Linked DNA regions of Homo sapiens. The protein of the gene in region 1 interacts with the protein of each later gene in a biochemical or structural test. Each region holds a gene or a part of one and is shown on either strand. Other genes may lie near its edges. The genes, in order: NOTCH3, SPTLC2, BTF3L4, CPNE6, C8orf76, MAML1 and MPPED2.

The links.
Region 2: the proteins of NOTCH3 (region 1) and SPTLC2 form a complex in vitro, tested with the Homo sapiens proteins (one study listed by BioGRID).
Region 3: the proteins of NOTCH3 (region 1) and BTF3L4 form a complex in vitro, tested with the Homo sapiens proteins (one study listed by BioGRID).
Region 4: the proteins of NOTCH3 (region 1) and CPNE6 form a complex in vitro, tested with the Homo sapiens proteins (one study listed by BioGRID).
Region 5: the proteins of NOTCH3 (region 1) and C8orf76 form a complex in vitro, tested with the Homo sapiens proteins (one study listed by BioGRID).
Region 6: the proteins of NOTCH3 (region 1) and MAML1 form a complex in vitro, tested with the Homo sapiens proteins (one study listed by BioGRID).
Region 7: the proteins of NOTCH3 (region 1) and MPPED2 form a complex in vitro, tested with the Homo sapiens proteins (one study listed by BioGRID).

Annotation. Positions count from the first base shown.
Region 1 is NC_000019.10:15,160,746-15,163,022, reverse strand, and holds part of NOTCH3 (neurogenic locus notch homolog protein 3 precursor), read left to right. Parts: intron 1-460; coding exon 461-558; intron 559-1,308; coding exon 1,309-2,277. UniProt on the Homo sapiens protein: Functions as a receptor for membrane-bound ligands Jagged1, Jagged2 and Delta1 to regulate cell-fate determination.
Region 2 is NC_000014.9:77,606,596-77,610,143, reverse strand, and holds part of SPTLC2 (serine palmitoyltransferase 2), read left to right. Parts: intron 1-3,548. UniProt on the Homo sapiens protein: Component of the serine palmitoyltransferase multisubunit enzyme (SPT) that catalyzes the initial and rate-limiting step in sphingolipid biosynthesis by condensing L-serine and activated acyl-CoA (most commonly palmitoyl-CoA) to form long-chain bases.
Region 3 is NC_000001.11:52,062,794-52,066,341, forward strand, and holds part of BTF3L4 (transcription factor BTF3 homolog 4), read left to right. Parts: intron 1-2,031; coding exon 2,032-2,145; intron 2,146-3,548.
Region 4 is NC_000014.9:24,070,377-24,074,475, forward strand, and holds the start of CPNE6 (copine-6), read left to right. Parts: upstream 1-1,265; intron 1,266-2,556; coding exon of another isoform or gene 2,557-2,560; coding exon 2,561-2,728; intron 2,729-3,122; coding exon 3,123-3,302; intron 3,303-3,674; coding exon 3,675-3,749; intron 3,750-3,914; coding exon 3,915-3,989; intron 3,990-4,099. UniProt on the Homo sapiens protein: Calcium-dependent phospholipid-binding protein that plays a role in calcium-mediated intracellular processes. Binds phospholipid membranes in a calcium-dependent manner. Plays a role in dendrite formation by melanocytes.
Region 5 is NC_000008.11:123,234,845-123,238,392, forward strand, and holds part of C8orf76 (uncharacterized protein C8orf76), read right to left. Parts: intron 3,098-3,548; coding exon 2,954-3,097; intron 1-2,953. Other genes in the region: ZHX1-C8orf76 (zinc fingers and homeoboxes protein 1), read right to left, coding at 2,954-3,097.
Region 6 is NC_000005.10:179,767,283-179,770,830, forward strand, and holds part of MAML1 (mastermind-like protein 1), read left to right. Parts: intron 1-1,567; coding exon 1,568-1,807; intron 1,808-3,548. UniProt on the Homo sapiens protein: Acts as a transcriptional coactivator for NOTCH proteins. Has been shown to amplify NOTCH-induced transcription of HES1. Enhances phosphorylation and proteolytic turnover of the NOTCH intracellular domain in the nucleus through interaction with CDK8.
Region 7 is NC_000011.10:30,409,678-30,412,540, reverse strand, and holds the end of MPPED2 (metallophosphoesterase MPPED2), read left to right. Parts: intron 1-954; coding exon 955-1,073; 3' UTR 1,074-2,317; downstream 2,318-2,863. UniProt on the Homo sapiens protein: Displays low metallophosphoesterase activity (in vitro). May play a role in the development of the nervous system.

The DNA.
Region 1 (2,277 bases):
CTGAGGCAGGAAAATCGCCTGAGCCCAGCAGGTAGAGGTTGCAGTGAACTGAGATTGTGCCAATGGACTCCAGCCTGGGTGACAGAACAAGACACTACCTCAAAAATAAATAAATGGATAAATAAAAACCACATGTGACTGACTACTGTATTGGATGTCACAACCCTAGGTTCAACTGAAGGAGGTCCACACAGCACCCCCTGTGTATAAACAGTCATGCACATGCACGCACACACACACACACACACAAACACACACACACAGACACAAAGTGCTTCCCCATTGCACAGAGTCATTTTGCAGATTTGCACACACATGGATCCAGACACAAGTACTTGGATATTCACGGCAGGCCTGCCTCCTCTACCCCTAGGCCACATTCTAGACAATTTCTGCCTCCCTGACATGGGGGCCCCAGGACAGGTGCCTGGTCCTGACCTCTCTCCCCTTCATCCTCCAGGGAAATCAGCCTTACACTGGGCTGCGGCTGTGAACAACGTGGAAGCCACTTTGGCCCTGCTCAAAAATGGAGCCAATAAGGACATGCAGGATAGCAAGGTGAGCCCCAGCCCTTGGTCCACTGGGTGTCAGCAGTGGCACAGTGCCATTGCAATCCAGCCTGGGCAACAGAGTGAGACTCTCTCAAAAAACAAAACAAAATAAAACCCCAAACATTGGATTAAAATATAATTTACTTTGGTGACTAAAGTTTTTGGGGGCCCCTTAAATTTTGTGCCTAATGGCTGGGTGTGGTGGTTCATGCCTATAATCCCAGCACTTTGGGAGGTCGAGATGGGTGGATTACTTGAGTTCAGGAGTTTGAGACCAGCCTGGCCAACGTAGTAAAACCCTGTCTCTATTAAAAATACAAAAATTAGCTGGGCGTAGTGGTGCACACCTGTAGTCCCAGCTGCTCGGGAGGCTGAGGCAGGAGAATCGCTTGAACCCGGAAGGCTGAGGTTGCAGTGAACTGAAATGGCGCCACTGCACTCCAGCCTGGGCGACACAGTGAGACTCTGTCAAAAAAAAAAAAAAAAAAAGACAAGAAAAAAAAAGTTATGCCTAAGGTGAGTACCTCGCTTAACTCACCCTAGTCCTGGCCTTGACCTCTGGCACTTAGTAGGTGATGGATGAATGTGGTTTAGAGGAAAGAACTTGTCCAGGCTCCCCCAGCACAGCCGGGATTTAACCCAGGTCTGTCAAGCTCCAGTGTACAAACTCATAGCTCTCGGGCTCCCCCAAGAGGCTGGAAGACTTTGCTACTGTTAGCTGGGGTTTCGCTGACCTCTGTGGGTTCTGGCCCCCCAGGAGGAGACCCCCCTATTCCTGGCCGCCCGCGAGGGCAGCTATGAGGCTGCCAAGCTGCTGTTGGACCACTTTGCCAACCGTGAGATCACCGACCACCTGGACAGGCTGCCGCGGGACGTAGCCCAGGAGAGACTGCACCAGGACATCGTGCGCTTGCTGGATCAACCCAGTGGGCCCCGCAGCCCCCCCGGTCCCCACGGCCTGGGGCCTCTGCTCTGTCCTCCAGGGGCCTTCCTCCCTGGCCTCAAAGCGGCACAGTCGGGGTCCAAGAAGAGCAGGAGGCCCCCCGGGAAGGCGGGGCTGGGGCCGCAGGGGCCCCGGGGGCGGGGCAAGAAGCTGACGCTGGCCTGCCCGGGCCCCCTGGCTGACAGCTCGGTCACGCTGTCGCCCGTGGACTCGCTGGACTCCCCGCGGCCTTTCGGTGGGCCCCCTGCTTCCCCTGGTGGCTTCCCCCTTGAGGGGCCCTATGCAGCTGCCACTGCCACTGCAGTGTCTCTGGCACAGCTTGGTGGCCCAGGCCGGGCGGGTCTAGGGCGCCAGCCCCCTGGAGGATGTGTACTCAGCCTGGGCCTGCTGAACCCTGTGGCTGTGCCCCTCGATTGGGCCCGGCTGCCCCCACCTGCCCCTCCAGGCCCCTCGTTCCTGCTGCCACTGGCGCCGGGACCCCAGCTGCTCAACCCAGGGACCCCCGTCTCCCCGCAGGAGCGGCCCCCGCCTTACCTGGCAGTCCCAGGACATGGCGAGGAGTACCCGGCGGCTGGGGCACACAGCAGCCCCCCAAAGGCCCGCTTCCTGCGGGTTCCCAGTGAGCACCCTTACCTGACCCCATCCCCCGAATCCCCTGAGCACTGGGCCAGCCCCTCACCTCCCTCCCTCTCAGACTGGTCCGAATCCACGCCTAGCCCAGCCACTGCCACTGGGGCCATGGCCACCACCACTGGGGCACTGCCTGCCCAGCCACTTCCCTTG
Region 2 (3,548 bases), on another chromosome or scaffold:
CAAAACCTCAGTTAGATACCATTTCACACCACTAGGATTGCTAAAATAATAAACCAGGTATTAAGTGTTCATGAGGATATAGAGAAATTAGAATCCTGATACATTGCTGGTGGGATTATAAAATGATGCAGCCACTTTAGGAAACAGTTAAACATAGAGTTAGCATGTGGCCCAGTAATTCTACTCCCAAGAAAAATGAAACATATGTTCCTGCAGAAACTTGTATATTAATTATAATAGCAGCATTGTTGATTGATTGATTGATTGATTCAGGGTGTTACTGTTACCCAGGCTGGCAGGACATGGCTCACCGCAGCCTCCACCTCCTGGGCTCAATCAATCCTCCCACCTCAGCCTCCCAAGTATCTGGGACTGCAGGCATATGCCACCATGAGTGGCAAAATTTTTTTTTTTTTGAGACAGAGTCTCACTCCGTTGCCCAGGCTGGGGTGCAGTGTGGCTCACTGCAACCTCCACCCCACTGGTTCAAGCAGTTCTCCTGCCTCCGCCTTCCGAGTAGCTGGGACTACAGGCACATGCCACCACGCCCAGCTAATTTTTTATATTTTTAGTAGAGATGGGGTTTCACCATGTTGGTCAGGCTGGTCTCAGACTCCTGACCTAAGTGATCCATCCGCTTCGGACTTCCAAAGTGCTGGAATTACAGGCGTGAACCACTGTGTCTAGCCCCACGTTATTTATAATAGCCAAAAAGTAGAAACAATCCAAATGTCTATCAACTGATGAGTAGATAAAATATGGTATATCCATATAAAAGGATATTATTCAGCAATACTACTGAAGGAATGCAGTACTAATACATGCAGGAGAATACTACATTGTTTATGGCCATGTGTTTATATAGTGAAAGTATTTAAAAATACAGGGGAATGATAAACACCAAATTCCCAATTCTTCTGAGGAGGAAAGGAAATATAGCATTTCCCCAGGACAGACTTCTTAAAAGGATTGGAGAACTACTTAAACATGTCAGATCTTGACACTGTCCTGATGGCCTCCTGTCACTAATAACAGAATACAAAATGGGGTTTACAAGGCCCACCATGAACTTTCCCATCCCTCTCTGACTTCATATCCTGCCAGGTCACTGCTTTCTAGCCAATCCGGGCTTTCTGATGTTCCCCAAACACATTGCCATCAAGCACCCCTCCCTGGGGCCTTATTATTATTATTATTATTATTATTATTATTATTATTATTATTTTGAGATGGAGCCTCAATCTGTCACCCAGGCTGGAGTGCAGTGATGTGATCTCGGCTCACTGCAACCTCCGCCTCCAAGTTCAAATGATTCTCCTGTCTCAGCCTCCCAAAGTGCTGGAATTACAGGCGTGACCTACCACGCCTGGGGTCCCTGGGGCTTTAGCCTTTACAGTTACCTCAGCCTGGAAAGCTTTTTCACAGAGTTCTCTTCCCTACTCCAAGTCCATCTGCTTACACCTTACCTCCACCCTGTTTAAAATGCTCTTTTTCCACGATTTTATTCTGATTGTAGCAGTGTGATCTGATACAGTATATCTATTTGCTTATCTGTTGTCTGCCTCTCTCACAGGAGTGTATTTCTAGTGCTCAGATCATGCCTAGCTCATAGCAGGGACTCAATAAGTATTGAATGAATAACTTTAATGTTTTATTTAATGGAAAAAAGATCTAAAGCATATAAGCTAAATCTTAAGTTTTGATAAAGCTAGATGTTGAATACAGTTTTATTTCTATTTTTTTGATGATAATTACTGTGTCATATTTCATACATACTCTGCTGGTTGACAAAAACTAGCTCCCTAAAATAATGTTACAGACATAAGTAAGAAATGGATTGTGGTGACACATAAGCTGTTAAAGAAACCCGTAGCCTAATTTATAGTGTATCAGGTTTGCAAGTGGTTTAAAACAATAGCGGTTTACTGAATGTTCTTACTAGCGTGAGGGGAGAGCTTGTGAGAAGTAGGAAGAGGCCAGAGAAGGTCCTGGGGTCTGGCACACTCTGATATGCTTCATCACCTCTCCCTAAGCTCTCCCTACAGGGCAGTGGGGCCAGTGGTGACTTTTGCGGCACCCTCTCCATTGTCTTACCAAGGGCTTCAGCTGTGAGACGCCGGTTGGTGCTACAAGGAAGGGGAAACGTGTCAGCTCTTTCCTCTGCTCTTTTCTCACATTGATTTCAAATGCCAAGAAGCTGGGCTGAGAAACCGGGCTTGTGATCCTGGTTGTACTGCAGTCCACCATGTGCTGGAGAGCTCTGCAGGTTGTGCTAAAGGGTAGTGTCTTTATTGCCTCCTGTATAAGCTTGACTTTTACATAGGCAAGCAGGTTATTTCCAGGACAACTAAATTAGTTGGTGCGAAACCTCATTTCCTAGAAACCCATTTTCTTAGTAGAGGAAACCCATATAACCATTTGTCTCCATGTAAGTGTAGCTAATAACATGAATAACAAAAATAGCTAATTATTTAAATAGCAAAAATAAGTATGGAAGATGAATTTGCAGTAAAATTCTAATATTAAGCCACTGATTATTTTAAAACAATCAGATTAAGTTGTAGTACCTCTGAAATAATTAAAGGAAAATTTGATTCTTAGAAAATCTCAATTCATTGGAAAGCCATGGAATTAATAAAATAAAAAAAGAAAATCTCAGGCAATATAAACTAAGGAATGGCAAATGGAAAATGTATTGATTGGTGGAAAAGTAATTGCGGTTTTTGACATTGAAAGTAATTACTTTTGCCATTACTTTTAATGGCGGAAACCATTTAATGGCAATTACTTTTGCACCAACCTATAAATAATTGGACTCTAGTTCCAACTTTGATATTTAGCTTTCCCATGACTGTTGACAAATTGCTTAATCTACTTTCCTTGATTTTGTCAGTCAAATGAGGAGGAAGAGACAGCTTGAGAAACATTTGTAAGAGAAATGCTTATTACTTTGTATGTGTTTTTCGTCTTACATATTAAATATAAATTCCTTTAGGTGATATTCTTTAAAATGATTTCCTTACTTCCTTTTATATTTACATCCATTTTCTCTTAAAAAAACAAACAAACAAAATACTGCACAATTCTTGAAGACAAGGATTACCTCTTACCTCTTATTTGTTTCATGAAATATAGAGTACAATTTTTTTTTTTTTTGAGATGGGTCTTGTTCTATCACCCAGGCTGGAGTGCAGTGGCGCCATCATGGCTCACTGCAGCTTCAACCTTCTGGGCTCAGGAGATCCTCCTATCTCAGCCTCCCCAGTAGCTGGGACTACATTCATGCACCACCACATCCGGCTAACTTTTGAAAATGTTGTGTAGAGATAGGGTTTCACTATGTTGTCCAGGCTGGTTTTAAACTCCTGGGTCCAAGCAATCCTCCCGCCTTGGCCTCCCAAAGTGTTGGGATTACAGGCGTGAGCTCCTGTGCCCAGCCTAGAGTACAGTTCTTGACATATAGATAGAAATTAAGTATTTGTAGAATGAGTGGAAAAAAAAATGAAATGATTATGTTGATTTTGAGTTTCTCGGTGGAATAGGGCTTT
Region 3 (3,548 bases), on another chromosome or scaffold:
GACTGGTTTCGTGGAAGACAGTTTTTCCACGGATGGGAGGATGATGGTTTTGGGATAAAACTGTTCCACCTTAGATCATCAGGCATTAGTTAGATTCTCATGAGGAGTGCGCATCCTAGTTTCCTCGCATACGCAGCTCACAACGGTTCGCCCTCCTATGAGAATCTAATGCTGCCGCTGATCTGACTGGCTGTGGAGCCCAAGCAGTAATGCTCGCTCATGCCCCCTACCCCACCTTCTGCTGTGCTGCCGTGTTCCTAACAGGTCACAGACTGGTACTGGTCAGTGGCCTGGGGGTTGGGGACCTCTATTATATGGGATACAAATTTAGGAGTTGGAATTGACACGATTTAGTGACTGATGGGATATGGGGGGTAAAGGGCATGCAGAAGAATCTAGGATAACCCTCAGATTCATGATTTTAGAGACTTGAGTATATGGTGGTACCACCAGCTACAAAAGTTAGGAAATAAGAATAGATTGGTGGACTGATAAGCTTTAAGACATATTGAATTTGAGGTGCCTGAGGATCATTCGAGTTGAACAAGCACCAAGCAGTTGAGCTATCCCTGAGTCAGGAATGCTTCACAAATGAGTGCCTATGTAAATAGTCAGTCCTTCAGCAACTAGATTTCAAGGCATCCTCTGCTGTCAGATCTCTCCTCCACTCCCACCGGAATTGCTGAGACTGAAGCCCCTACCTTACCTCTATAAGGCTGATTCCCTGAGTACTACTATAGGAGCTACCCAGAGATTGAAACCACTATTCCTTTCTCCTTACTCCTACCAGTTTTAGAAAGATTTAACCCTCAAGACTTAATAAACTGATCCAGGAATCCATTATTTTAAATAGTATTTCAATGGAAAAATGTATTTAGAGTTTCACAGTATCAATTTAGAAATGAACTTTTTCTTTCTCAGTAACTAGTATAATTTTCAACCTGTTTGCTCAGGCCAAGATTCTAAGCATCATCCAAATGTCCTCTTTTTCTCATATCCCACGTGTAATCCATCAGCAAAGTCATGTGGTCTCTTGTGAGAATCTGACCCCTCACCATCTTCACTGCCATATCCCTCATCTCTGGCCAGGACGGCTACAGGAGCCTCCTGACTGGTCTCTTTATAATCCATTTTCTACATAGCAACTTCAGTCATAAGTAATCAGATCAAGTCACTCCCATGCTTAAAACCTTTCAATGGCTTCCCATTGCAATCAATAAAATCTAGCTCCTGCCCATGGCATTCTAGGCTACATAATCTGGTCCTTGCCTATCTTTCTGATTTCATATTCCTCTTCCGTTCCCATTATTCACTCTGCTCTAGCCATACTGGCCCATTTTCTCTCTTCTAGAAAGGACAAGTTCAACCTTGTTTCATTCTGCTTTGATCATTCTTGCCCTAGTTATGGGTCTCAACTCATATGTTACCTCTTCAGAGGGGGCTTTCCTGGACCTTCTAATAAAGTATTGCTTTGCCCCTACTTAGTCATTCTTGCTGTGCTCTAGTTTTGCTTTTTTCTTAATAGTACTTAATCCCATTTGAAATTATCTGATTTGTTTATATATTTATTGATTTTTTTCCTCCTACTGTAATGTAGACATTAATTTTCAGTTATGTCCTAATTCCCCAAATTTCAGAATATCTTTAGACTACTGGCAGGGGGTGGTAGTTACTATAAGAAAAGATAATGTTTTAAAATTGTTATAAAGTATTTAAATTGTCTTGAAGTTATAAATTATGTTTTATTAGCAAACAGTATCTTGTGTTGAAATGACAAAGGCTGGATATTAGATAAGAATAATTCAACCTGAAAAAGCTGATAAGGAAAAAAAAGGAACTGGCTAGAACCAACCTTTAGAAATCTGCGTTAGGCTGACAATCACAACCTCTGAGAAGTCTTATAACATTAATCATTATTATTTTGTCCATTTTTTAATGTGGGTTTTAGATTATTGTGATACGTAAGATGTGATTGCAGTTGCCAGATGCCAGGCATGCTAACACTTCTGCTTCTGTTTGGTTATTTTTCAGGGTACAGCTCGCAGAAAGAAGAAGGTGGTACATAGAACAGCCACAGCTGATGACAAAAAGCTTCAGAGTTCTCTAAAAAAACTGGCTGTGAATAATATAGCTGGTATTGAAGAGGTATGATCACTTTGCAAGTTGTTAAATTGTGTGGGTACATGCACAAATAATTGTCTGGACCTTTCAGATGTAAAATATCAGCTTAGAAAAATCTTTGATATTGTCACTCTGATGTCTTTGAAGGACTGTGGCACTTTGATTTTTGTATGAAATTAAATGATGGTCAAAAAAATAATTTTAGTAGACAGTTAAGGATTTTCATCATACTTTTCAAGCTCAAGATATTTGCGTATATGGCAAAATTATGTAAGTGTTCTTGAATATTAATATAAAATATGTCTCTAATAATGTAGAAATAAACCCCAACATTTCCTCAGATGAGATAGACCTTTTTTTTTTTTTTTTGAGATGGAGTCTCACTCTGTCACCCTAGCTGGAATGCAATGGCACGATCTTGGCTCACTGCAACCTCTGCCTCCCGGGTTCAGACGGTTCTCCTGCCTCAGCCTCCCAAGTAGCTGGGACTACAGGTGCGTGCCACCATGCCCGGCTGATTTTTGTGTTTTTAGTAGAGACGGGGTTTCACCATGCTGGCCAGGCTGGTCCCAAACTCCTGACCTCAGATGATCCGCCTGCCTCGGCCTCCCAAAGTGCTGGGATTACAGGTGTGAACCACCGCGCCCGGCCAGACTTTTTTTTATTATTTAAGATTTTGGACTCATGGCTCAATAGAGGTAGACTTTTTTACCCTAATGCACCTGTATATTTTACAGAGCCTCATTAGTTACTACCTCAGCCAAAAGGCTTTAGCAGTAGCTTTACATGGGTTAGATTTCTTATTAAAACTGTTTCAAAAATTGTTTAAAATGTATTAGTCAGCCGGGTGCAGTGGCTCACGCCTGTAATCTCAGCACTTTGAGAGGCCTAGGCAGGCAGATCATCTGAGGTCAGGAGTTCAAGAGCAGCCTGGCCAACATGGTGAAACCCTGTCTCTACTAAAAATACAAAAATTAGCTAGCTGTGGTGGCACATGCCTGTAATCCCAGCTACTCGGGAGGCTAAGGCAAAAGAATCACTTGAACCCAGGAGGCGGAGGTTACGGTGAGCCAAGATTGTGCCATTGCACTCCAGCCTGGGTGACAGAGTGAGCATCCGTCTCAAAAAAAAAAATTGTATGTCAGTTTATTGTATTTTGATGACACTATTTTTCTCAAATATGAGACCAAAGATTAATGTTATTCCAGAAGATACTTAATAAATAACAACAACTACTTGTGATGTTACCACCTAGATGCACCTCTGCCTGATGATTCCATTTGTTTTTTTGTTTTTTAAGACAGAATCTCACTCTGTCACCCAGGCTAGAGTGCAGTGGTGTGATCTCTGCTCACTGCAACATCTGCCTTCTGGGCTCAAGAAATTTCTGCCTCAGTCTCCAGAGTAGCTGGGATTACAGGCGCCCA
Region 4 (4,099 bases), on another chromosome or scaffold:
ACATTGCACCTGTCACGCTTCATTGCGTATGCGTATTGGCTTATCCTCTCTCTGTCTGCCTGTCTTTCTGTTCCATATACATCTGCCTCCCCCAGGGGCAGAGGCTGTGTCTTAATCACCTGTGTAGCCCCAGCACCTGGCACAGTGCCTGACACCCAGGAGATGCTCAATAAATGGCTGCTATATTAATACATGAGCAGCTTAAGGGGATGGAGGGCGAAGGTAAATGCTCTTGCGTACTCATCGCAGACCACAATGTGCCCAAATGTCTTCATGTGTGGTTTGCAGCTCCCCAGGCAACTGCTTACTTCCCTTACTTACTGATTTCACCAGGAATTACTTGTTTTGTTTCCTTAAGATCTGTGCATGGCACAGCCCCTCCCACAAGGGTAAGGCCATATGGGTTGAATCTTGGGGGGTGTTGGGTACATTGTGGCACCGGGAAGAAGCCTTGGGAGTCAGTCCTTCAGCAGATGCCCTCATGTGACCAGGATATGAGGTTGGGTGTCCTTAAGCAATTATGTCCATTTCCTGTGTCTCCTTATAAAATGGTGGCTAGGGAACTGGACATCATTCTCAAAGCTATGACGTTCAGCAAGGTATGTGATGGCTTTTAAGGAGCACGGGAAGATCACATCCTGCTGTATTCCGGGTTAGTTTGAGTGAGTACATGTGTGACAAGGACAGCCCAGTGTTCCTGTATATGTGACTGCAGATATCCTTAGCTAGTGTAACAATGTTGAAAGTGATGTGAGAAGGGGTATGTTTCCCAATGTGTATCCGCCGGGGGCTGTAACTGTCGTGGTGTCACAGTGAGTTTATGTACTGGCGCCTGTGTGTGTCAAGATATGTGTGAGCCTGTGAGTCGTGGGTGCATGTGTCGCCATCATTTCTCTGTTTGAATGTGTATGTGCATGCCACTGCAATGTGCGCATCTCTGCGATTCTGGGTGTGGGTGTAGTGTGAAGGGGAAGATGTGTGTCACTGTGTCTGTGGGGGTCCTGCCTCTAAGCCACCCCCAGCCTGCCCTCCTCCCCCGGTTCTGTGGCTCCCTCCCAGGCTGTGGCCCTGCCCCTTCCCTCTTCTCCCTCCCAATCCATCCACGCGGGGGGAGCTGGTGCTGCGCCCCCCCCCACCCCTCCCCATCCAGGCCCCATAAATAGCAGCAGAGCCGGAGCTGGAGCCGGCGCCAGCGGCTGGAGCAGCAAGGGAGTCAGGGCCAGGGCCAGAGAGCCGGAGAGAGGAGCCCCCGACCGAGAGCCCAGGTGAGCCCACCCTTCCTCCCCAGCCCAGCCCCAGCCCAGCCCAGCTTGGCCCAGTCTCCATAACAACATCTCCTGGAGCCCGCAGAGAGATCCCAGCCCTGCCCAATCCCTTCACCACCACAAGCCCCTGCCTATCTCGGGGACCCCCAAGAACTGGGAGACTTGTGGCTGGAAGGCAGAGACCCCCCTCCCCCAGCCCAGACCCTCCCTCACATATCCAGAAAGGCACACACTGTGGGGAGGTAGATACCCAGCCAGAGAAAGGTCCCACTTCTGAGGGAGGTACAGGAACTGTCACACCCTCCTGGAAACGGACACACGACATGGGGGGACAGACACGGAGGGTGGGGCACTCAGACACACCAATGCACACTCACTCGGGGAAGCATGACATGGGATCAGACAGCCTCACCCTGAGATCTGTACAGACACAGATAGATGGACTGACCGGCCATGAACTCTGGCCGGCATACCCCTGCCTGCTTCAGCCCGAGGCTTGGTACCACTGCTGGGGGAAGGTGGCATGCGTGCATCCCACGGGCAGCATGGAGGGAGCCACGACTCCCCAAAAATCCTGTCGCTAAGAGACGGTGCCAGTGCTGCCAAGAAGTGTGAAAACAGGGGAGGTGGGGAGGGATGTGAGGCTTGTCACAGTTAGAGCTCCTGCCAGGAGCCTGAAGGAGCTTTCAGCAGAGCCCTGGTCCTGCCTCCCAGCCCACCACCACTCCTTTTCCATCAGCTAGCCAGAAGGGGAATGGGGGTAGGGAGTGGATAGGGATAGCCCAGCAGGGGACTTTCCAACCTGTCTCCTGCCCACTGCAGACTCCACTTCTGAGACCCATCCTCTTCAGAACTCCAGAGGCCTCTCCACCCCCTGCCCCACCCCCTTGCCCTAGTTTAGCTCCCTCGTGCCAAGACTGAGTGCAGCGCTGGCACAACACCAGTCGGGAAATAGCAGAAGGTGCTGAGGCGGCAGAAAGTGTAGATCAATCGATGGCCTAGGAGCCAAGACTGCCAGGAACATCCCCACCCCAATCCTTCAGCCCTCTCCAGCCCCATCCACGCATACCTAGGCCAGCAGCACAGGGCTTCTGAGCAGGAGTGGGAGGCTCAGGTCCTCTGCCCTCCCCTGCTCAGAACTCTGGTGAAGCTGAGGAAGCAGGAGGTCCGTGAGGCCCCAGGGTCTAGGGAAGGAGGTTAAGGGGTGGGGCCCAGGGACCCTAGAGGATAGACCCCTCTGCTGGCAGGTGTTCCCTTTCCAGAGTCCAGGCCACCTGCTCTGTCCCCACAGTGACATGTCGGACCCTGAGATGGGATGGGTGCCTGAGCCCCCAACCATGACGCTGGGGGCCTCTCGGGTGGAGCTGCGGGTGTCCTGCCATGGCCTCCTGGACCGGGACACACTCACCAAACCCCACCCCTGCGTGCTGCTCAAGCTCTACTCTGATGAGCAGTGGGTGGAGGTGAGAGCAGCTCAGGTTTCTCCTTAACTAACCTGGGTTAAGCTTGGGAAAGAGGGAGGCTGGGTGGGAGCAGTGAAAGCCTTGCAGGGAAATGTGTGGACTCTGCGGCGCCTTCTCGAGGCCGCTTGGGTACCCTGGAGATGGTGTCCCAGAGGGTCCTGAGATTGACCCAGAGGCAGTGGGGTTGCTCCCAAAGGCCTCATGATAGCCCGGAGGACTGAGAGTCCAGTGGGCAGGCAGCACCCCAAGCTCAGGGATCAGCTTAGGAAGAGAAGAGCTGGTTGCTGGGGACGTGGGGGCCCAAGAAGAGCTGGCATGACTAGGGCAGTCCAGGACAGGGAAAAGTATCCTCGGTTCCCAGACAGCCCTCGCCTCCCTTCAACCACTACCACAGGTAGAGCGCACAGAGGTGCTTCGCTCCTGTTCCAGCCCTGTCTTCTCCCGGGTGCTGGCCCTTGAGTATTTTTTTGAGGAGAAGCAGCCCCTGCAGTTCCACGTGTTCGATGCCGAGGACGGAGCCACCAGCCCCCGAAATGATACCTTCCTCGGCTCTACGGAGTGCACCTTGGGCCAGGTCTGCATTCCCGGCCTCCCCGGCTACCCTACCCTACCTCCATCAGCTTTGCCTCTGGAAGCCAAAAAGAGAGAAAACATGAGCTCTAGAGCTAGTTCAACCCAGCCTTGGCTCCCATCTCTGCCATTCACTAGCTGTGCAGCCTCAGGAAAGATACTTAACCTCTCTGAGTCTTAGTTTTCCTATCTAAAAAATGGAGGAGTGGTCAGAGTGCTTCCCTCTTCAGACTATTGTAAAAATTGAGCCCAACCCTAGCCCAACTCAAAGTGCCAACCCTTGCAGACACTCAGAGCATTTATTATTCCATCCCTTGTACGTGGCCAAGGCAGATGGGGATGTCACAGCTGGGTCTCCCTCCACCTCCATCCCCAGATTGTGTCACAAACCAAGGTCACTAAGCCATTATTGCTGAAGAATGGGAAGACTGCGGGCAAGTCCACCATCACGGTAGGCAAGATCACCTGTACTCACCCTTGGTCCAGGTATTCAATGCCCCTGCATGGACACCTATGGTGACATCATGCCCAGGACCACCCCCACCTAAGGGAAAGGGGATGGGGTGGCCCTTGTGGTAAGGTTAGGGGAGTCCTGCCACTTGTATCCCCCTTGCAGATCGTGGCCGAGGAGGTATCAGGCACAAACGACTATGTGCAACTCACCTTCAGAGCCTACAAGCTGGACAACAAGGTTGGAACCCCAGAGTCCAGGCCCCCAACTCCCCTGTCACTCCTAGGCCTCCCACTCAAGACAGATCCCAGGAGCCCAGGCCTGCTCTCTTCCCAGTGGGAGCCCATCCC
Region 5 (3,548 bases), on another chromosome or scaffold:
CCAGCTACTTGGGTGGCTGAGACAGGTGAATTGCTTGAACCTGGGAGGAGGAGGCTGCAGTGAGCCAAGATCGCACCACTGCACTCCAGCCTGGGCAACAGAGCAAGACTCCATCTCAAAAAGAAAAAAAGAGCTGATGTATATGTGCGCTGGCTAAACCGACCAGACACTAGATGAGCACTGCATGTACACGATATATTGTTTGTCTCCTTAGCATCGAACCCAGAACCAGGAAAATAGTAGGACTGAAATGTTTGTTGAGTGCTGAGTGGATAAATGAAAAGGAGTCACTTACTACCAGAAAGCCATTTTCTTACCACAGTTACCACACAGGAATACCAACCACTATAAGAAAATGTTGTAATTATTTAAGAAATAAGTCCTACTATAAATTTTATCCAAAAATCATGAAAAGAGGTGAATGAATTTCAGCAGAAATTGTGAACAGAAAATGTTCGAATCTTGATGGCCACCCCGGGACTTGCTGTCTATTTTGTTCAATGTTACATACTGCGACAGGTCCCCCTACAGAATGTGAAAAGACAGTAACCACCGTCACAAAAAAACAGATATGGGCCAGAGCTAGTAACAAAAGGCGAGGGTCCTCAGGTAGAGAAGAAATTTTAAAAAACAAAACAAAACACAGCTTACCAGGAAATGAGAATGCCGTGCAGACACGCAAGGTCCGCTGAGATCATGTGTGAAGCCGACAGAAAGGGGCGAACCCCACGAGCCCGCTTTCCACCTGACAGTCCTGCCCAACAGGTTGCCAGGACGCCTGATGCACAGTTCTGAAAGTCCAGGGTTTTCTGACTGGTGTTTCTCCTGCCTAGTAACCATCCCCAGCACCGGAGACCTGGCATCGGCTGATTGGCAACAGATCCTTCTCTGAGCCACCGAAACAGATTCCCTAAGCTAGAAGGAACCAGAGATGACCCAACCCCTGCCAGGAATCCAGCTGCCACTACCTTCAACAATCAAAGAGGAGGAGGAGGAAGCACAACAGTGACGTGCAAGAAACGCCGAGCGAGCAGGACAGTAGTAAAGGCTACAGAAAGGCACCGGAAGGGCCAAGAGCACTGTTAATTTGCGGACTGGGGAAGACTAGAAATGAACACAATGAAATCCCATCAAGTTAACTGCTCATGCAAACGCTTAGGAAGTCGATTTATCTATCTTTCAGCTTAAGCACTAACCCCCAATTAGTAGAGAACAGAAAAGAAAGAACAAAACACAGCTGTTTTCCATGTTCTTAGAACAATTACTGCCAAAGTTTCCTCGAATTGCAAGAGGCTGAGGTCCTATGCAGTGAAGGCTTAAGCAAACAAAGGTTAGGGATTTCTCTTAGTTAATGAGATGGCAGATGTCAGCTCAATTGTGTGCATACGTTAGGCTGATCTGATCGCTGGGCGGTACATCCACAAAGCTCAAAATCGGTGCCACAGTGTCTCCTTAATTTCCTCCGAGGAAGAAAACTAGTCCATTTAGACTAATTCCCATATAAAATTTACACAACAATCAATACAAATAATGCCTTAACCTAGAAACAAAAGCAATAAAATCTAGAACTGGAAAGAACTACCTTTCTTTATCCCTTAAAAAAAAATTCCGCTTTAGAATGTGTGGAAAAAGGCAATAAAATTTTTTTTTAAAGAAAAAGAAGGCCGGGTGCAGTGGCTCACGCCTATAATCCCAGCACTTTGGGAGGCCGAGGCGGGCGGATCACAAGGTCAGTTTGAGACCAGCCTGACCAACATGGTGAAACCTCGTCTCTACTAAAAATACAAAAATTAGCTGGGCGTGGTGGTGCATGCCTGTAATCCTAGCTACTCAGGAGGCTGAGGCAGGAGAATCGTTTGAATCCGGGAGGCGGAGGTTGCGGCAAGCCGGGATCACTCCACTGCACTCCAGCCTGGGTGACAGAGTGAGACTCTGTCTCAAAAAAAAAAAAAAAGAAAGAAAAATTCCCTTTTTCTTCAGCGAGGCTGCCGAGCTCCAGATGCAGAGATGCAGATCTTTGTGAAGACCCTCACAGGCAAGACCATCACCCTTGAGATCGAGCCCAGCAACGCCAAAATTCAGGACAAGGAGGGCATCCCACCTGACCAGCAGCGTCTGATACTTGCGGGCAAACAGCTGGAGGATGGCCGCACTCTCTCAGACTACAACATCCAGAAGGAGTCCACCCTGCACCTGGTGCTGCGCCTGCGAGGTGGCATTACTGAGCCTTCCCTCCGCCAGCTCGCCCAGAAATACAACTACAACAAGATGATCTGCCGCAAGTGCTGTGCCCGCCTGCACCACCCCGTGCTGTCAACTCCCGCAAGAAGCGCGGCCACACCAACAACCTGTACCCCAAGACGAAGGACAAAGAAGGCTCTTCCTTCCCCAAAGAGCGGCGTCCTGCCCAGGCCTCATGGCCCTGGGGCCTCAATAAAGTGTCATAAAGTGTCCCTTTCGTTGACTGGGGAAAAGGAAAAAGAAAAAAAAATTCTGCAAATTCCACTTAAAAATAAAAAGGACTACTAAGTGTGGCTTGGTAATGAGTATTTAGTCATTTTGGGGGGGGGACCTTTTTTGGCTTAGAAAAATACTGTTCATTGTAGAAATTTTGGAGAACAACGTCTAAAAACAATCTAACGAAGAAAACAGATCACTCATAGTCCTTCCACACTGAATGTTACTCCTAACAAGAGAAAAACCTCTGCAAAGGAGATTTTCAGGCAATACAGAATTTTGAGCATGACACAAGAAAAATATTACAAGAAAATGATTATGTCTAGGTTCCAAGTTGTTCATCATAATAAAACTCTCACACCCCTGACAATTTTCTTCTGCTTATCCAAACCCATAGATTTTGCTACTAGCAAGAAGTTTGTTTTGTTTTCAAAAAATACACCATTCGACCACCCTTATAGGAATGTGTGTGAAAATAAGCAATAAAATCACTCACCAAGTTTGCAGCAATCTCCAGCGCCTCCATATGCCTACCCAGGTGAGCCAGACACCGAGCCTGACCTTCCTGGACATCCCTTTTCATGGCAAAATTGGTTGATGACAATTTTTCAGAGATACTGGAATACTCCTGCAGTGCTTTCTGGAAATTATTTGTTAAATAAAGAAATGAAAGGAGGAAAACATAACAGAAAAAAGGATTCAGAATAGGGGTGATTTTTTTTCCTAGGTGGAAAGTAATGTTATAACTGACCAATGAATTACATGAATATTTAAATGAATTAAAGAAGATTTCACTATTCTAGTGATATGGTTTAGCTGTGTCCCCACCCAAATCTCATCTTAAATTGCAGCTCCCATAACCCCCACATGTTGTGGGAGGGACCTGGTGGGAGGTAACTGAATCATGGGGGTGGGTTTTTCCCATGCTATTCTCATGGTAGTTAGTCTCAGGAGATCTGATAGTTTCATAAAAGGCAGTTCCCCTGCACACACTCTCTTTGCCTGCCGCCATGTAAGACGTGACTTTGCTCCTCCTTCACCTTCTGCCATGATTGTGAGGCCTCCCCAGCCATGTAGAACTGTGAGTCCAT
Region 6 (3,548 bases), on another chromosome or scaffold:
TTTTCCGCTAGTGCAGATAAGCCTGCAGTGAACGTGAATTTGTAATACATGCTAAAATTTTGCAAATTAAAAAGCCCAGTGCCGGTAATATCATGAGGAAATAGACACACTCCTGTATTGATGAGAGTGTGTAAATGAGCTCACTGCTTTTGGGAAGTCATTTGACATTATGTATTTTTCACATGCTGTAAAATGTTCATATGCATTGACACACTATATACCCGACAAGTTGATCTAAAGAAATAATCCAAAATAAAAGAAAAAGTTATATCCAAGATATTCATTGTGTGGTTATTTCTAATAGCCAAAAACTGTAAGCCATTTAAGCATCTCCCAGTGCTGATAATTCCACTTACTTCAGCCAGTAAGATGTCTCACGCCGTTCAGCACCCCCTGAAGAGAGGCTCAGCTGCACACAGTGAGGGTGCTTGCCATCTGGGTAGCACTTTGCAACTTACGAAGCACTCTCAGTAGTTCTTAAGCTTCTGGTGATTAGAGTGAAGAAATTATACCAGAATCTTAGAATGAATAACTAGAAAGGAGCTCAACAATTTGAACTGGTTTAAATAATGATTGCTTTTTGCCTATCTTCTGCTAAGTTCCCCTTTTCTTCTAAGTGTCAGTAATGACGGGATAATATTGTGGTGGCCTTTGACATGACTCTCACTTGTGGTCTATATATTGACAGAGAATATCTGTTAAAGTTCTCATTGATTCTCAGTATTTTTTGAGGATGGGTATTTGACAAAAGCTAAGCAGTCTCTTCCAGTAAAATGCTTGCGCAGATGTACAGTTTCGGGTCGTTCAGGGATAGCCCGAAATCCAAGGTTTATGCACATGGGACAGAGTGGTCTCCATTGACCAAAGCCCCCTTCAAAGTGTTCTTCCCCTAGGCCGGGTGCAGTGGCTCATGCCTGTAATCCCAGCACTTTGAGAGGCCGAGGTGGGTGGAGCACCTGAGGTCGGGAGTTCGAGACCAGCGTGACCAACATGGAGAAACCCCCATCTCTACTAAAAATACAAAATTAGCCAGGTGTGGTGGCACATGCCTCTAATCCCAGCTACTCAGGAGGCTGAGGCAGGGGAATCGCTTGAATTCGGGAGGCAGAGGTTGCGGTGAGCCAAGATCGTGCCATTGCACTCCAGCCTGGGCAACAAGAGCGAAACTCCGTCTGAAAAAAAACAAAAAGTATTCTTCCCCTATTGGCCCGCTCTGCACTCAGATGTCCTGATAAGTGAGCATTTCTAAGCCTCGATTGCTTACTGGAACTATTGTGTGCAAATATGAAAGCTTACATATGCTTAACGTAAAACCATACCTTTGTCACTGGTGAATCACTGGGAGTAAAACTAACACCTATGGAGTAATTGTTCGTTGCTAGGCGCCTGTATGCTCAGATGTCATCACTTTTGGTCTGTGCTCCAGCCCTGTGGGATGGTTGTTATTCGAGGTCAGAAGGGAAGCAGAGACTTGGCTTCAAGAGAGTGAACCTTGAATTCACTGGATGGAGCTTATTTGGTCTGATCAGAGCTTAGAGACTTCACAGTCCCCTATCTGTGTTGACAGGAGCAGAACCCTTCCAGTGTCCCTGTGCAAGCCCAGGCTACCAGTGTTGGGACCCAGCCGCCTGCCGTGTCCGTGGCCAGCTCCCACAACAGCTCCCCCTATCTCAGCAGCCAGCAACAGGCCGCTGTAATGAAGCAGCATCAGTTGCTTTTGGACCAACAGAAACAAAGGGAGCAGCAGCAAAAGCATTTACAGCAACAGCAGTTCCTTCAGAGGCAACAGCACCTTCTCGCGGAACAGGTAAAAAGAAAAGTGGAAGGAAACCACCGCTTCCCACCTTTGCCTGCACCCTGCGTCACTGCTACAGTCACACCTTCTGCTTGTGCGTGTGGATTTGCGCAGACTTGCGTGCCTGTTGTTAGAGTGCTTTGCCTTTTAAAAACATCTTTCCAGGAATGTGGCATTTCTCAGACAGGGGTAGTCTTGTCAGAAGCTGCTTCGTGTCACTTAGTGGAGAGTACTCAAGGCAGACTCGGGGGCTAAAACTGTTTGTGGAAGGGACATTTTCCTATGTTTCAGGTCAGCAGCTTCCAAGCCACTGAGCTCACGTGTCTGTCATTCCACTATGGAGTCAGCTTTGCTGCCACTACAGAGCCTGTTATAAGCCAGAACGTGAAGAGGGAAGTGAAGTCATCCCTGAGGGAAACACAGTTCACTCGCTTGGTTAGCAAGTGTAGTGTGCAGGCACTAAGGGTTACAAGTGAGAGTTCTTTTTTTTTTTTGGAGACAGAGTCTTGCTGTCACCCAGGCTGGACTGCAGTGGTGCGATCTTGGCTCACTGCAGCCTCCACCTCATGGGTTCATGCAATTCTCCTGCCTCAGCCTCCCGAGTAGCTGGGACTACAGGCAAGAACCACCATGCCTGGCTAATTTTTGTGTTTTTAGTAGAGATGGGGTTTCACCACGTTGGCCAGGCTGGTCTTGAGCTCCTGACCTCAAGTGATCCACTCATCTCGGCCTCCCAAAGTGCTGAGATTACAGGCGTGAGCCACCACGCCTGGCCTTAAATTACATCTTTAAGACATAAGAACTGGCTCCAGACAGTGAGGTTCATTGAGGACAATCCCTGCCTCAGTTCTGCCTTTAAGAAAAGCAGCTTTATTGTGATGTAACTCACACAGCATACACTTCACCCACGTAAGTGAACAATTTAGTCATTTTTAGTATATCACAGAGTTGTGCAACCATTACCACAATCCATTTTAGAACATTTTCATTACCCTAAAACAAATCCCATACCCATGAGCAGCCATTCTCCCATCCACCCTGCCTCTCCAGCTCCTGATCTACTTTCTGTCTCTATAATTGTCTGCTCTGGGCTGGGCGCAGTGGCTCACTCCTATAATCCCAGCACTTTGGGAGGCCGAGGTGGGCGGATCACGAGGTCAGGAGATCAAGACCATCCTGGCTAACACAGTGAAACCCCGTCTCTACTAAAAATACAAAAAATTAGCCAAGTGTGGTGACGGGCGCCTGTAGTCCCAGCTACTCGGGAGGCCGAGGCAGGAGAATGGCGTGAACCTGGGAGGGGAGCTTGCAGTGAGCAGAGATCGCGCCACTGCACTCCAGCCTGGGCGACAGAGCAAGACTCCATCTCAAAAAAAAAAAATTGTCTGTTCTGGACATTTTATATTTATGTTATGTCATTTTCAATCATGTGCTAGGTAACAGCAATTGATTCCTCTTGATAATAATATTCCATTGTATGGACATGTTACATTTTATTCATTCGTCTGTTCATGAACATTTGGGTTTCTTGTTTGGGCTGTTAATGAGTATTGCTGCTATGAACATTCATGTACAAGTTTTCATATAGACATCTGTTTTCATTTTTCTTGGGTAGATACCTGGGAGTGGAATTGCTGGATCACATGGTAATTTTTATGTTTAACCTTTGGAGGAACTGTCAGACTGTTTCCCACAGGCTGTCTCATTTTACATTCCCACCAGCGGTGTATGAGGGTGCTGATTTCTCTACATC
Region 7 (2,863 bases), on another chromosome or scaffold:
ATGTGGAAAAAAGCCTTTTCAGTTACTTCTCTATATCTTGGTAATTTTATTTTTTTCACAGCTATGTTTTTATATGCGATAAGAGCCTGATACCAACATAGAATCTTAGTTGAAGAGGCTATAAGGCAAATATAAGGTATTCAGGGAAATGTGCCAACTTGCAAACATGCTAAACATTTTATCATATTGAAAATTATCAAAGGAACATATATACCAAAGACCTAGGGAAACAACTTTCTCCCAATAAATCACAAAAGGTTTATATTGCATATGGGAAGTGTTTTTGCTTGATCTAGTATCCAGGTAAGCTTAGGAAACAGTGACCTAGGGTGATGTTTCTACACATCACTTCGACATGTGATTAGCTGACACTTTTGAATGAAATGGAACTTAGTATTAAAGCCACACAATTCAAAAATCATATATGGTTGACTTTCGTAAAGGCAGTTAAGAGATTATTTCATAAATAAGTAAATTGAGTGTCTACATTTCTTAACTCTCAATGCAGTATCCTTTCCCCCCTCACCTGCCCCATATCCCACTTGGAATTTAGTTGTGTTTGCCCCTGAGGAGTAATCCTTATATTACTCATTTTATTCCCTAGAACTCAATAGTTAACACAAGGCTTTGAAATGAAAATCCTATTTTAAAAGGAGGAAAAAAGTTTTTCTTTATTCTCCCTAGTAAAGAAATCACAGCCCTTCTTCAACAAGTTTAGCATTTAAATAAAGAAAAAAAAATTGCTCTTAGTTGAAGGAGAAGATTCTACCATTTAAAGAAAATAGAGTAAAATTGGGCAGTAGCTTCTGAAAGTCATTATATCTGAGGAGGCTCAACTGAATTTCATCTCACTGCCCACTGACAAAAATTTTTTGTTTTCCTTGCCTGACAGCCCTACATTCCATCACTCTCATTTGTATATATTACAGTAAATGTGACACGCTCTCCCCACAGGTTATGGCATCATGACCGACGGTTACACAACGTACATCAATGCCTCGACGTGTACAGTCAGCTTTCAACCGACCAACCCTCCAATTATATTTGACCTTCCAAACCCACAGGGTTCCTGAAGCTCTAAATGCCCTATTGGAATGTGAGGGAAGGTCTATAAACTGCCATTTTTCTAATTATAAACTTACATTCTCTTACTTATTTACAAACCCTGTGAGTTCTTTTTGTAAATTGTTGGAACACAAATGATGCTAGAGGTTGTGCTTCTTATTTTATTTTATTTTAAATGGGGCATCCATTTGAAATCAGAGGAACATTGTGAATTTGTAAAATGACTTCTGTTTTCTCAAAGGCCATGCCATTGTAAATTGTTAGTGTTCGCCAAAGGACAGCCAAGCTTTCTTTTAAAAAGTGATAAAAGTCTTATTTTAATATGCTTTAAGCTGAAAGAAAAAAAAATAAGAAACAGGCAGTGTTTTAAAAACCAACACAGATTTGCACAACTGTTTAAGAGTATTGTTTGAAATATTTTAATTTTCAATGTTTTGTTGTTGTTGTTTTCTTGGTAATGCTTCTTTTTTGCAGATGTGGTCCCAATTTATAGCAATCTTCTCAACAGAAGTAGGCATGGAAAAGACTTCTTTTCATACTCTCACTATAAAGAAAGCTGCATTGAGAAGAAAATGGCTGTCATTTAAAGGATGGTTTAACTAGTGAGATTCCTATTGTGGTTATACAAGGTCTCATTGTTTGTTTGTTTCTTTTAAATTATTTCAGCTTTAAAAATACAGAAATGGAATCTGTCAAGAGCAGGTATTTCATACGGTTAAAAAAATGAACATGCAGACTCCTTTTCAATATGGGTTTATATATATAAGTATTTTTTGTGTATTATGACTACGTTAGGAGTTTATTATTGTCAAGGACAGTACAACTGCAAAGGGATGCTGTATAGCAACACATCAGAAGTCGGAAGGAACTGACACATTCTCTCAGAGCTCAAGGTCTTAAAGAGCTTGAGTTAAATCTAGGTACAGTTACAGGCATGTATAGACTTAAATGGATGCAATGGAAGCTAACTAAAATAAGGCTTAGTTGTCCTTTCTATTTAAATACCCCAAGTTGTCTTCTTACTTCCTCTCCCCTCTCCCATTTTGCACTGTGTGTCGATGCAATCTTCGCTAGCACAAAATATTGTCGCTAATAGTCATTTCTGTTTTCCCATTGTAAATGCTGTTGAGCTTTATTCTATTTTATGTTACTTTGTTAATGAAATTTAGGAAAGCAGTTGTTTCTTTAAATTTATTGTGATATTCTATATCTAGCGGCCTTTATATGCAAATAAAATTGCAAGATTTTTAAATTCGTGCTGTTTAGAGGGTTGGATGGTGGAGGATGGTAGTTTCGTCCTGGGGAAGGAGGGATTTATTCATATGCAACATCAGTAATGCCTTTCAGAAGAATTAGAATAAGTGATTTTTTTCCCTAATTTTCAATAAATTTTTATTACCCACCATTCACAGGCTGGCAGATAGATCGATAAGGCACTCAGTGTACTCTTTCCTTCCATCATGCTGTCATCTGTCTTGCCTTAGGTTTCATCTTTGGCTGTTGTAATTTCTACAGGAACAGAGAGACTGGAGTTAAGGCTGTGGATTTATTTTGGGCAAGTTTGTGATAGTGAGTTTGGGGAAACCGTTGATGACAGAGTAATCACTGCACATTCTCATTTTCCCCAAGAGCAGTCACCATCTCCTCCTCACTTTTGTAATGATGCCCACCCACAAAATGCTGTGGCAACCAAGAGGGGATAGCAGAAGGGTGGCGAAAACCAGAGAAAATAAAAAAGACATCACCCAGAAGAACCACTGAAGCAAAACAGCATAATCTTGGATCTGCAGTGCACCCT